Homo sapiens: one gene and its partner. The protein of the gene in region 2 purifies or fractionates together with the protein of the main gene of each other region. This does not show direct contact. Each region holds a gene or a part of one and is shown on either strand. Other genes may lie near its edges. The genes, in order: AMOTL1 and WWTR1.

Region 1 (7,279 bases), on a different chromosome or scaffold from region 2:
TAAATAAGGCTCCATGGCCTCATTTTCGTTAAGGGCAATGCATCATTTTTAATTCAACAGCCATGGGTCTGGCTTACCTTTTCATCCCACAAAGCAATTCATTTTCATGATTGCATAAACTGCAAATCATAATTCCCCATTTTGGAAACACATACTTACTCCCAAGATTCTCCTCCCTCCTCCAGCCATGTCCAACACAAAGTAAGACAGGACCATCAAACCTTCTTTCTTGTAATATGGCACATTCCAAACACAGAGCCCACTAGGAGTAAGGCCTGTGATTTAGCAAATATCTTCATGCTTGTTCATGTTTAGACTGGACTTGCTGCACTGCTGGGCTGACAGGGTTCCCTGAGGACAGGCGTTATCTTTAATTTGCCAAATGTACTCTTGGGCTGCCCCCACTTTACTTGTCCCTCCTCCCTGCACTGTCAGTGGGCATGTACCCAGAGAATGTCAGTGCCTCTGACTCTATCCTCAATGAAAAGAAATCAGGTTTTCTGGGGGAAAATGCATAATGCATTTTTTTAAAGGAAAATAGTGATTTGGGGAATAGGTCATACCACAGGTTCCCTCACTTAATGTATGACACTGCAAGCCCCCTGCCCTGATGAGAAAGAAGGTGGTGGTGATGGCTGTCCTGGGACAAGGCAAGAAGTCTGCTTTACGACAGGAAATCCACAGCTCCTCTGGCTTTGACATCATCTTATATTTTCATCAACCTAGGATGGGAGGGCTGGGCCAAACACTACCATGTCATGCTTTTATAAAATATCTATCTACATACCAAAAAATCAAATTAACGTACTCATAGATGAACAAAATATTAATAAACAGTTACCACTCTTCTCTCCACTTCCCGGAAGCTAGTAAATCAAATCCCCTATGCTGAACAGACAAGATTGAGCCAAGATAAAGGCCAAAAAGGCAATGTACAGGCTGAGAGAGTAGAAACAGAGCCTTAAGTGTTCTTTTCATTGACAGGAGTCATTCTTAGTCTTTTTCCAAATGGATACTGCCTAAAACATACAAATTAGTCTTAAGTTAGTATTCATCATCTTCCATAATGGAAACATTCTAATAAAAATATCTAAAGAAAACCCACAACCCTCACCCTAGGAATGAAAGCACCTCCAAATGAAAGCAAACCAAAAGACAGACGAAAGCCCACACCCACAGCTGTCAGCCCCATTAAGTCTGGTCTGTGACAGTCTTCCCAGATATCTGAAGAAAAAGAGGTATCCAGACAGCTTTCTTCCTAGAGTCTAGAATACTTCACCAGAATTCTGGTCCTGTTGAAAAAAACAGAAGGTGGGCAGAGCACAGGCTGGACATCACATGTGATATATTCTATAAATCTGATTAGAAATTCACCAGATTTAGTGACCCCAAGTGAAAGCTTAAATCTGCGGCTCCACTGCAAAGTACAGTGGCCAAGTGTTTACACTCGTGGGAGACGCAGTGTGCAGCAAAGCATTCCAGGTCTGCACCTGGCTCCTGCACTTGCAAGCTGCTGGCTTTGATCAAGTTAGTTAACCTCCCTCTCTAAGCCTAAGTTTTTATTGTATGTAAAAATTGTGATAATAATAGTACCCACCCTTTAGAGTTGTAAAGATTAAGGAAGATAAGTAACCCACACAAAGTGCCTGGCACACAGTCAGCATTCGGTGAAGGTTTCACCCTCCTGCTATGACTACCACCACCACAACTACTCCATTCTCACCTGCTAAGGGTGAAGACAGAGTTCTAGAAAATGGACAATGAGAGCAAGTGTTAGAAAAAACAGATTTTAGTTTATGCTGAGTCCATTATAATATATAAGTCTTAGGAACAAGAAACACAAAAAGCCTATTTTTGAGATCAACTAAGTCTAAATAGCAAAACATACTCCCTTCCCCACAAAATTAACCTAGCCAGTTATAACAAATTCAAATAGGAAGTTAAGACTATTTGCAGGCAGGGTGCAGTGTTCACCTGTAATCTTAACACTTTGGGAGGCCAAGGTGAGTAGACTGCTTGAGCCCAGGAGTTCAAGACCAGCCTTGCCAACATAGTGAAACCCCAACTCTACCAAAAAAGAATTACAAAAATAGTTGGGCACGGTGGCACATGCCTGTAATCGCAGCTACTGGGGAGACTATGATGGGAGGATCACTTGAGCTTGGGAGGCAGAGGTTGCAGTGAGCTGTGACTGCACTGCTGCACTCCAGCCTGAGCGACAGGCATCTCAAGACAACAACAACAAAACACTATTTGCCTATTAAATTAGCAAAGATTTTGCAATTATAATGATGTAATAACTAACGTTGGTCAAAGTGCAGTAAAACAGGCACCGTAATATTTTTACAAGGTTTTCTGGCATCAGAAGCTTTTAAATGTTTATTATAATTTACCCAATAATTTCATTTCTAAATAATGATTCCTAAGGAAGCCAAAACATAGATAATTTGATATGCATGATGATGTTCGCTCTATCATGGAGAAAATGGTGTAAATGGTATACTTTATGAAATATTATACAGCAATAAAAATGTTGGTTTTGAAAAAATAAAGGATTGTGGAAAAAAGCTTGTGATACAATGCTATCTTTCAAAAGCGAGGATACTAAACAATATAATTTATCATTATAATGTGAAAAAATTAATTTGTACAGGAAAAATGTTAGTGGGTGTATTAGGAAAGTAGGATATTTTAAGTAATTTTTTTAGCATCTCTAGTTCCCAAATGTTTTGAAATATGGATTTCTTTGGAAAACAAATATGCATGTTGACTAATATACTCCAAACTGCTTTGATAAAAATTAGATCATCCCTTGGTATTCATTCATGCATTCATTTCCATTAACAGTGCAGATTGCATAAGCCAAGTCACTACTTCTAGAAGTGGTCTGTTTCCACAAAGAGTCATAAGTAATATCCAAATGCTTGCCTTTGCTTGGGGGGTTGGGAGTGGTCACAATTCTCCACAGTAACAACCTGTTTAATTCCCATCTTGTCCTCATTCTTATCCATTTACACTTTCAGGTTGAGGAAAAAGTATAGTAGAACAAGAGGAAAACCAGAGCCTTCATCCCTAGCCAACACATGTTCCCTGCAGGCCCCTGCTGCCTTAGCACTCCCATCCCCACCAGCCACAGTAGCTCACCCACATGGGCCAAGGTGGGTCAAGTCAACGAGGTCAAGGCCTCATCTCCCAGAGGGTTCCCAGGAAAGGGGCCTAAAGGGCCTTATAATCACCTACCAGACATCTCCATCTTTAGGGCGCATCAGAGCAGGTGAGAGAATTTGTAAGCTATGGTGAGTCAAGAGTGATCACAAAAAACTCAAATTCTTATTCTTCTCATAAGTTCTATCACTTGTCTCTTTGGAGCTTTCTACCTCTAGGCAAAAAGGAGTGAAGTCTCAACAATGTAATGGGTTGGACCAAACTACTGAGTACTCATTACATACTGAGCCCACCAGTATGGGCACCAGCCAGGGAGATGGACTCCATGATCTCCATCAGAGGCGTCTCTTTCTAGTCCAAGAGTCTATGTGGTTGTACGTATGTACACAATGGCCTGCAGCTTCCTAAACCATCACGATCAATGACAAACAGATAACCCTTTAAGCACAAGATAATGTGTCAGTGAAATGAAAGGGGCCCTACTTGTCTTCTGGGTCACAGGCAAGTTGAACATGACACACTGCTGAGTTTCAGGTCCAATCCTTCGAGTTCAGGCCACGTTAAATGTGTCTGAAGCAGGGCTGGTGTGGATGCAATATTGTTTACCCAGTCAGCCAAGGGCTGCACCACTGGAGCCATGCTGGCTAGCCATGGCCCTGTTCACAAAGGGGCCTTGTGGCTCTGGGACCCAGCCTCAATGGCCTGTCTGTTACGTCTCCTGAGACATTTGATGCGTCATATTAACCAGCTGCCAAGCCTGGCAGTCAGCTCAAATCCCTCACACATTTCTTCTTCTTTCTAACGTCATAACTTTGAGAAAAATGACCTCCAAAAGTGTTCCCCTCCTCCCCTGACCATTTCTCCCACCTCACATCACACCTATTACCAAATGACAAAAGGCAAAGTGATCCACTGTATGCATTGCACGGTATGTACATATTACTTTACAAATAGTAAAGCAAAGAAGAGGAAGGGGATTTCATTTCAGGATAGCTTCCCCTCTATCAAGCTCTAGAGGCTGAGTTAAGTTATCAGGGAAAAGGGTGAAATATAATAAGCCAAACTCTGGTATGATGGTGGAATAACATCATGGCTTATTTTAAACAACTGTGGTAAATCACTGTGATGCAAATACCAGGGATTTGATCAAGGAGCTATAAAGGGGGAAGAAGAGCCTCCTGGATCCCATCTTGGATTCCTGGGAGGAGTCCGGTTATGCCCACTTAGGGAGAATGCGTTCTCCTGCCTGGCCAAGATCTCACAGTTGGTTATGCTGCTTCTGAGCTGGCATTCTCAGTCTAATGTGGGGAAATGTGTCAGTGCTGGGAAGCCAGTGGCAGATCAGGCCACTCTCCCTCTGCCAACCTCCAGCCTCTCCTTTTTCAGAAGATGTACAGCCAAGGTATGTCCTGCACATAGCCACTGAGGTCGCTTGGGAAAACCCTGGCTTGTTCAATTTAGAAACAGATAATAAAGCCCTTCATGAAAATGACACATCCAATAATAGGCAGTGGCCACATGTCTTTTCTGTTCATGTTCCCTGCCCCTCCTTCAATGTCAGCAACATCTAAACATTTCTGACTCCCAAAGTGTGATCTTCAGACCCAATTTCTCTCCTGAGAGTTTGATTCGTAATTCCCTTATTTCCATCATCCCTATTCCAGAATTTCTGTATCTAACCAATCCCTAAACCCTGTCAGTTCTATTTCCCTACCTCTCTTAGCACATAATGCTCCTCTATTCTCCCTGCCCAAGCTTTGGCCACCCTCACCAATTCTGATCTGGACTACTGAAAGCATCCCTGGAGCTCCTTGTGGCGTGGGGCTCCCTTTCCTCTAATTCATGCACTGCCACCAAAATCAGCTGTTAGACATCCACTTACCATCCCTACCTAAGAACACCGCTTTTCCCGATTGCTTATGGATACATTCTAAACTCCTTAATACGACACCCAGAGACCGTCATCATCAACTTCCCTGTCCAAACATACCTCAACCAAACGGGTCCCAACTTCCCTGTCCAAACATATCTCCTGTCACTTCTTACCACACCCTTGCCCACCAGTGCTCTGCATTATTGCCACTCATTCCAGACAAAAATCCTCATGACCTCTTTGTCTGAAGACACGGCACTCCCTCACACAGCACATACTGCTACTTCATCTCTACCCTACAACTCTGATTTATCCTTCAAGTTCCAACTCAAATGTCACCTCCTCTGGGAAGCTCTCTCCAGCCCCTCCAGTTGTGAGTTATACTATCCTACCTGTTACCCTAGCATCCTCGGCCCATTTCTCTCCTAGAACAGCACATTGAATGGCAATGATCTGTTCAGATGCTGGTTTCCTCCAAGACAATGCTATAGGGTCCTGAAGGGCAGGGACCCCATCTCTGAACCAGGAACAGGGCTTCAGAGTACAGCATACACTCAGTAGGTGCTGCTGAATCCATCAATCAACTGGAAGAATACAAGTGAAGGCTGTAGGAAGAATTAGGGCAAGGGAGTGAATAGATTTTGGCAGTCAGGATACTTGAGTGTAGCCCCCAGCTGCCTCAGAGTTGTGTCTATGAAATTCATTAATCTCTCCAGGCTTTAGTTTCTCATCTGTTGAGTGAGGGATGGGACTATGTGATTTCTACAGTCCCTTTAACTCCTCCATTCTAGCATTCAGACTACATTTTCCTTTAAAATCTACAATGAAAAAAGACTATAAAACCCTCTGGTAATAATATGTTCCAGGAGTTTGGACGGTCTCCACAAAGCCATTGGAAAATTGCTACTTTGCCAGGCCACTAGGCAGAGCTCCCAAGGACAGCTAACAAGTGAGGTCCCTCCCCTAAACTCATAAATCCCCAACTGCCTGCTGCTATGTTTGGAGAAAATCCCTCAGTTGCCCTCTACTCTATTTCACCCTATATATTCTGGCCACAAAGTGGTTTATTAAATATCATGCATAAGGAAAAAAGCCTGATGACAAAAACCTAATCTGCTCTGAAAATAATAAATGCTAATAACATGACTATTGAATTTTGAAAAGCCGCACGAAACGTCTGCAGTTGATAATCACCTCGTTACCCCATACTCAGGGGGTGGCTGGTACCGCAGGACGGCCACATCTGTTCTCACAGGCTGAGGAGCAGGGTAGGGCTTGACCATCTCGTGGAGCATCCCGGGGTGCTGGTCACCATAAAAAAGTCCGTGCTCCTGGGTCTTGCTGACTGGGGACATCATTTGCTTGGTCTTGAAGGGGTACTCAGGTGGAGGACCCCGAGGGTCCAGCACTTTACCTGCAGGCTGGGCAGGGGAGGGCCCCCCTCCTACTTTGAAGCCCTTTCCATTCCCCGAGCCGGGAAGGTGTTGCTTGGCCCCATTCCTCTCCAGGGACAGCTGCATGATTCTCTCGCTGAGCGAGCGGACGTGGCCCTGCTTCAGTTCCTTCAGCGCCTCGTCCTTATGCGCCTGTCCACTGTTGGCACGGTTCACAGTGGGCCTCCCCTCAGTTCGGGACTTCTGACTGGTGCCCCCTGCCATGTAGTAACCATGGCCCACCGCCCCCTGCTGCTGTTGCTGCTGCTGCTGCCCCCTGAAGAACTGCGACTGTGCTTTGGCCTCCTCGTAAGTGGGCAGTTCCTCGTTGTTCTGCTGAGGCTGCGTGGACCGGACCTGTTTCTCCATCACCGTATTGTCCACCTGGTGTTCTTGACCCTGCGGTTCTTGGCGTGCTGACTGGTAGACCATTTGTGGGTCTTCTTGAGTGAGGTTTTCCGTGGAAGAAAAGTTGTTTGTAGGATGGGCTGGTCCTGCACTCCCTGTGGCCTGGTGCTGAATGGCCAGCAAGTTCATGTTCTCGGTTGGGGTGCCATACCGCAGTTGTTCCTGGATCAGCCGCTGCAATACTGTTCCAGCTGCCGCATCCTCGGAACCTCTCATTTCCACCTCTGAGATCCTCAGGAAGTTTGGGGAGTGGAAGTTACAAAGAGGATCTTCAACTAAAAGATAAACATAGGAAAAAAGATATCAGGCAGCTCCACAGGAGATATATGTCTGTGACTATGTGGTACATAATTAACATTCTAACTACAGCAACATTTAAAAATAAGATTTCAAATGCATC
Region 2 (7,279 bases):
GCCATGGTTTTAGGGTTTGAGGGACAGTGAGACCAATGACTTCAGCATGGAAAGTGGGAAACTGATAGGCATAAATATGGGGAAAGGCCTAACCTTGGTTTGGGATGCAAATGTAAACATACAAAAGTATTCTCTGGAAACATCAGCAAATTTGAAAGGAATTTGATGTCTGGTTATGTTTGTCAAGATGGAGAGACTCCTGGAGATTATACCTAGAGAAAGTAGTTGCAGTCAGTAAATTTGTAGCCTTTTGGATAGACTCTTCTTAGCAATGTAATGCTAGCTTTTATAAAATAATGCTTGTATTATTTGTTTCTGCTAATGAAATCCATATGCTGTGAAACAGTTACTTGTCTGTGGGATTTGGATTGGATCTACATGGTTCCCCAACCTTCAGCATTTTAGTCAACAAAGTAGTCAAATAGATTGACTTTTTTGTTTTTTTGTTTTTTTTGAGACAGCGTCTCACTCTGTCACCCAGGCTGGAGTACAGTGTCGTGATCTCTGCTCACTTTAGTCTCAACCTCCCAGGCACAGGGCTCCTCCTGCCTCAGCCTCCCAAGTAGCACCACACCCAACTAATTTTTGTATTTTTTGTAGAGACAGGGTTTCACCATGTTGCAGGCTGGTCTCGAACTTGTGGGCTCCAGTGATCCGCCCACCTCGACCTCCCAAAGTGCTGGGATTATGGACGTGAGCCACCACCCCTGGCCACTGATTGACTTTTTAAAGTAAACTTTCAACTCATTGTTTTGCTTTCCTGTCTGTAAACATAAAACTGCCAGATGCAATTTAATGTAGAGCCTGGACTCTGTAATTCCACAGTTTTACTGGCCTGTAAGTGGCAAAGACCAGAATGTACTTTATAGTCCAGAGGAGTCTGATTGCTTTGATTGATGTAGATTTGGTTTGAGAACCTGAGATAGAAAAAGCCTTGTCTCTGACAAAGTGTTTTGAGAGGGCTTTCTATGATTTGGGTGTTTAAATAATTGCATGGGTGGGATGATTGCAACATTAAGTGCCCTTAGATCAAATAATAGCTGAGCTTCCCATTAACTTTGTGAATGTGAAGTGACTTATGTCTGTAAGACTTTCTTCGGAGAAAGAATACTAATGGTTGCCTGGTGATTTTGACTTGCTGGGAGTAAATACACAGTGCTTTGTATTTGGTGAAAAGTTTTGATGTGAAGTACACTTTGCTCCATGCCTTGTGACAATGAGTGCATGACTCTTGCTTCCCATTCTGACTGTAGGAAGCTGCCCTCTGTCGACAGCTCCCCATGGAAGCTGAGACTCTTGCCCCAGTTCAGGCTGCTGTCAACCCACCCACGATGACCCCAGACATGAGATCCATCACTAATAATAGCTCAGATCCTTTCCTCAATGGGTAAGTTAATATTTGGGGGCCACTTATTTTTATTCTCTTTATTATGTGATCTAGACTATAATAGGATCTTTGTTTACATTGGGAAGAGGTGGGGAGCTTGAGGGTTGAGGGTGAGAATAAAGGGAGGAAGTGGGAGGAGCTGGCAGAAAAAAGAAAAGCAGGGGAAATCATCTGCCTGTTAAAAAATTTCCAAATTAAAAAATTGGTGATAGGACGTAGAGTAAACCCCTAGTCAAGAATTTGAAAATGGGCATGAACTTATATTTTTAAACATGATGGTGTCGTCTAGTACTTATACTTGGAAGAATCTTCTGGTTTTATGTAACCAACAGGGGATAAAAGCATGCCATATGGCAAATTGAGAACAGAACAATTAAGAGATTATGTTCGGCCAGGCATGGTGGCTCATGCCTATAATCCCAGCACTTTGGGAGGCCGAGGTGGGCAGATCACCTGAGGTTGGGAGTTCGAGACCAGCCTGACCAACATGGAGAAACCCTGTCTCTTCTAAAAATACAAAATTAGCAGGGCATGGTGGTGCATGCCTGTAATCCCAGCTACTCGGGAGGCTGAGAATTGCTTGAACCTGGGAGGCGGAGGTTGCAGTGAGCCGAGATTGCACCATTGCACTCCAGCCTTGGCAACAAGAGTGAAACTCCATCTCAAAAAAAAAAAAAAGAAAGAAAAGAAAAGAGATGATGTTCAGGGTGAAATGTGAATAAGATCTATAGTTTAGTAAATAATATTCTACAGTGTCAGATTTCTGATTTTGGTAATTGCACTATGGTTATGTAAGATGTTATCACTGGGGAAGCTGGTGAAGGGTACATGGGAACGCTCTGTACTCTTGTTGCGTCTTCTATGTGAGTTTAAAATAATTTCACAATTTAAAAAGTAATTAAAACAAAGGAGCAAAAGGGAAAGAGAATTTAGCCAGAAATATCTTCATGAGCAGAAGTAGTTTTTAAATCAAATAAAAAGGGCAATTCTGTATTTCCTGTGCCTTTTATTCTGCCCTTGCAGAGACGTCTGGCAAACAAACAATACAATTATGAACATTATTAAAGATAGAGATAAAAACAAATAGTAGCTGAAATAATAATTAATGGAGGTTTTAAATTGTTGATTTTAAAGTATTTGAAACACAGAGAAGTACAAAGAATAACATGAATTACCCATGTACCCACTACCCAGATTTGCCATAGTTTTATTTAATCTTACTTTTTAACAAATAAAATATTACAATTAATATTTGAAGCCATCCCCCCACCACTGAAATCTCGTTTCTTTTCCCTTCTGTCCCCAGTGGTAGCCACTATTCAGAAACTGGCGTGTGTCCATCACACAGACTTTTATACCCCTTACTGCCCGTTAGTGTATGTATCCATAAGCAATATTCAACATAGTTTTTGTTTTTTTTTTTTAAAGTTTTACATAAATGGTGTCATACTCTGTATGTTGAAGAATGTTCAAATGGTTATTTTGAGGTGAAAAGGAAATCAATGTCAATTTACTGTGAATGGCCACACATGATTATTTTCATTTTCATGAGGGTATGTATTTCAAAATTAAAACTTTCCTTCCTCCCTAACCTGGAAAGTTGGGCAGCATGGCACAACTGCACTAGTTTAGAGCTTTTGTGACTGTGTTTTAATTTTGAGATTTATTTAGTGGGCTCATATTGAAGTTTCTTCATCTTTTGCTTTGCAGAGGGCCATATCATTCGAGGGAGCAGAGCACTGACAGTGGCCTGGGGTTAGGGTGCTACAGTGTCCCCACAACTCCGGAGGACTTCCTCAGCAATGTGGATGAGATGGATACAGGTAGGAGCAAAGCCTGCAAGCACTTACAATGGGTTTGTGTTTTTTAAATGATCTCTTCGGTTATCTCAATTTTATTTTTCTTTTATTTTATTTTTATAATTTCAACTTTTATTTTATATTTGGGGGTACATGTGCAGGTTTGCTACATGGTTATGTGATGCCGGGGTTTGGGATACGATTGCTCTCGTCACCCAGGTAGTGAGCATAGTACCCAATAGTTTGTTTTTCACCCCTTGTTCCTCCCCACTCCCAGTAGTCCCGAGTGTCTGTAAAAATGTTGAAAAAAAAAAAAATGGAATGCTTCATGAATTTACATGTCATTCTCATGCAGGGGCCATGCTAATCATTCCAGTTTTAGTATAGGTGCTGCCAGAGCGAGTACGGTCATCTCAATTTTAAAATCCAACCAGAAACACTCAATCTCAACGACAACATAAAATAACAGCTGAAAAGCCACTGAACCCCCAGGCACTATTAATAAACTGTAGCCCCTTCCTCATAGATTATACAAGTATAGTTTTACATCTGGGCGCAGGATTTTAAATTCTGTTGTTTTTTTTTTTTAATTCATCTTTGCTCCATATAGTCCCTTCCTCACAATTGCATCAAGACACCACTGTTTGTTTGCCATGTTTCCACATTGGGGTATTTATGCTGTTCTAGTTTTTAGTTGTAATATATGGGCCACCCTTTCTCCTGGAAAGTGACACTGGTTTATAGTTCTAGTATCCAATTTTTTTCATGTCATTCACTGCATTTGAAAAGCAATTGGCAGTGGGTATTTGGAATGCTGAGCAACTCAGAGGATTCAAAATTGTCACTTCCAAGTTCCAACATGGTAACGACATCCTCCCTCAGGAATTAAAGAGAAGAGAGTCAGGGTTACTCTTACCTTGTCCCCAGCCTGTGCATCCTTCAGGTCCAGCCTCACCAGGCTTCCCGATTACCTTTCTTTTTCTCCTTTTCTCAAGGAGTGAGACTTCCAATTGCAGAAACTGAAGTTAGTCTTATTAGCCTTACCTAGACTTAATTATGAAAGTCATAAACTCTAAGAAGATATTCTAGAACCAAAAATAAATGACAGCCAGGGTGTCCACTATTTGGAGTTATTCATGAAAGTTCCTTCTCCATTATCATTGACGAAAGTAATTGTTTTGTGTTGAAAATAAAAAATTCCTTCCCCCAAAGTGTTTGCCATAGTGCCTGTAGTTTTTTACACTCTACTCTTTGATGGCTTCTCTTTGTGTTGTGAGTCTAAATTGTTGGAAAGATCAAGAGTCAAACTCATAGCCAGGTGTCTTACAAATGCAGTACATTAAAGCTGCTCCCCTGGCGTCTTTCGTGTAGGTTGTCATCTTTGCATTGAGAAGATTGCAAAGACTATCTTGTGAGGAGTGACACAGGAATAGTTTGCACTGATTGTTTTACTGTTCTTCAGTTTATTACTTCAGTTCTTCCCCCACCACCACCCCCTGCCACCTTTATCTCTCTCTCTGCTTTTTGAGTGTGAGATTTATTTTGCTATCTTTGGAATAGCCTTAGGAAGTGGCTCCTTCCTATGTTTAATAATTCTTTACTTTCATCTTCTAAACACTGGGAAGCCAGTAAGGATAAAAAGCAAAGTTAAGGAAAAAAGCTCAGGAGATCTAAATCTAAGTTTGACATTCAAAAAAAAAAAAAAAAAACCATAAAAGAGGATGGATTCTACTCTATGTCTCTTTAAAATAACCTCAAGTGGGTAAGTAGGGAGTGTTTTATTTTGAAGCCGTAATGTGGAATTAAATGACGTCCTGAAAAGAACATAGTTTTAGCCAACAGGCAGCCTGATTTGAATCCTTGCTTCTCCATTCCTAGTAGCGCCTTTGGGTAAGTTGCATAACCTCCGTGAGCCTCAGATTTCTCACCCATAAAGTGGGAGTGATATGCTCACGGCAGAGTTGTGAGGAGTCATGAGATCACAGAGACCAGCTCAAAGTGCTCTTCTCCAGTAAGAAGACTGATGTCATACATACAATGGACTTGATAATGTCAGAGTGCCACGTTAACCTGGTTAAGTGAGAATCAGCTCATTGAGTGTGGGAATGTGAGTGCCAAGTTAACCTGGTTAAGTTAGAGTCAGCTCATTGAGTGTGGGGCCACCTCTGTGAAGTCTTTGTAGGAACTGGACATACATCTTCTCAAGGGGAGAAATGTTAATTATACAGTAGCAAAATGAGGGAAGCTGTGGGGGCAGGCAGAGCTCAAGTGTGGCTAGAAAAGATCTATCAGGCCTGTGGACCACGCGCTGGCCACATGCTGAAGGGAAACGAGCCAGCTGAGCACTCCATTTGCAAAACATACATGGCAGCAACAGCTGGGCTTGGTGCGAAGATCCAGTAAAGGGAATAACATGAGCAAAGGCTGGGAAATCATCCATCCTTCCAGAATATTCTGCAGTAATCACACCCTTTTAAGAATTGCCTTGTGGCTGGGCACGGTGGTTCACACCTGTAATCCCAGCACTTTGGTAGGCCGAGGTGGGTGGATCACCTGAGGTTGGGAGTTCAAGACCAGCCTGACCAACATGGAGAAATCTTGTGTCTACTAAGAATACAAAATTAGCTGGGCGTGGTGGCACATGCCTGTGATCCCAGCCACTCGGGAAGCTGAGGCAGGAGAATCACTTGAACCCAGGAGGCGGAGGTTGCAGTGAGCCGAGATTGTGCCATTGCACTCTAGCTTGGGCAGCAAGAGCGAAACTCCATCTCAAAAAAAAAAAAAAGAATTGCCTTGTGTTTGTCTCTTCCACTTTTTAAGTGGATAAACTGCAAAGACCAAAAAGATTACTATGAGATTGCAGAGCTGCTTCTATTTTAAGATTGTTAACTTTAATGAAGAAGCTTAGCCAGTATCCTCATGCCTTCCATCCTGAGAAGAAAGGATAAGAGTAATTTTTTTTTTTTTTTTTAATACGGGGTCTCATTCTGTCACCCAGGCTGGAGTGCAGTGGTGTGATCTCAGCTCATTGCAACCTCTACCTCCTGGATTCAAACGAGTCTCGGGCCTCAGCCTCCTGAGTAGCTGGGATTACAGGGGTGCGCCACCATGCCTGGCACTGTTTTTTTGGGGTTTTTTTGTTTGTTTGTTTGTTGTATTTTTAGTAGAGACAGGGTTTCACCATGTTGGCAAGGCTGTTCTTGAACTCCTGACCTCAGGTGATCCACCCACCTCGGCCTCCCAAAGTGCTGGGATTACAGGCATGAGCCACCACACCCGGCCTAGGAATTCTTTAAAACAGAGATTTTGCTTGGCTAAAAATTATATTCTTGAGTATCTGAAAGTTAAAATGGGAAATTAGTAAAAATGAATGATTCTAACTGGAGATGAAGAGAAAAAAAGGCATCCAGCACATTAGATCAGATTGTTTTTTAGACACTTTTTAAAGCCTCATTTTTATCTGTTACACTCTAGTAAGTAGAAGAAAGTTATTTTGGATTTTGTTTTTTCGTTTAACGTTATTTTTCAATATCAGTAACACTATATTGAGGTCATATTGTTGAATTTGATTTAATTTTTCAGTTTACTACCCTTTGCAATGAAAATACTGTAAAATGTTACCCAGGAGTCATTTATATTTTGTGACTTCTAGAAAAGCCATTGTGTTTTGCTATCACCAAAATCCAAATTGGATGATGGTTCCTTCATCATTTGGAAGGATATAATTTTTCTCCCTGGAAAACACAGATTGCTAAAGTGAACTTTCGGCAATTTTGCTTAAAATAGTGAAACTTCCCTACACACGTTTCAGGAAGGCTACTGCACTTGTAACACACAAAAGATAATTTAACAAGTTTTTAAAAAATGACGTTATGGTGGAAGCTGGCCTTAGTTATCAATGCTTCTCAATTTTTGAAGTAGATATTATCTCTTCAGAAAATTGTTTGGGACTTTTTGAATTAACCTGTTGTTTTGATATTGTGTAATTAATAGTGGCTGAAGACCTGGGTTTTTCTTTCTCTCAGGACAATGAACATTTATTATATTTTTGTATGTATATAACTTTGTATATATCAATGACACCCAGAGCCAT

Evidence for each region.
Region 1: the proteins of WWTR1 (region 2) and AMOTL1 purify together in Homo sapiens (affinity purification with mass spectrometry; 2 studies listed by BioGRID and IntAct, with this or other methods). This does not show direct contact.

Annotation. Positions count from the first base shown.
Region 1 is NC_000011.10:94,799,265-94,806,543, reverse strand, and holds part of AMOTL1 (angiomotin-like protein 1), read right to left. Parts: intron 7,155-7,279; coding exon 6,233-7,154; intron 6,206-6,232; exon of another isoform or gene 1-6,205. UniProt on the Homo sapiens protein: Inhibits the Wnt/beta-catenin signaling pathway, probably by recruiting CTNNB1 to recycling endosomes and hence preventing its translocation to the nucleus.
Region 2 is NC_000003.12:149,521,944-149,529,222, reverse strand, and holds part of WWTR1 (WW domain-containing transcription regulator protein 1), read left to right. Parts: intron 1-1,253; coding exon 1,254-1,387; intron 1,388-3,097; coding exon 3,098-3,210; intron 3,211-7,279. UniProt on the Homo sapiens protein: Transcriptional coactivator which acts as a downstream regulatory target in the Hippo signaling pathway that plays a pivotal role in organ size control and tumor suppression by restricting proliferation and promoting apoptosis.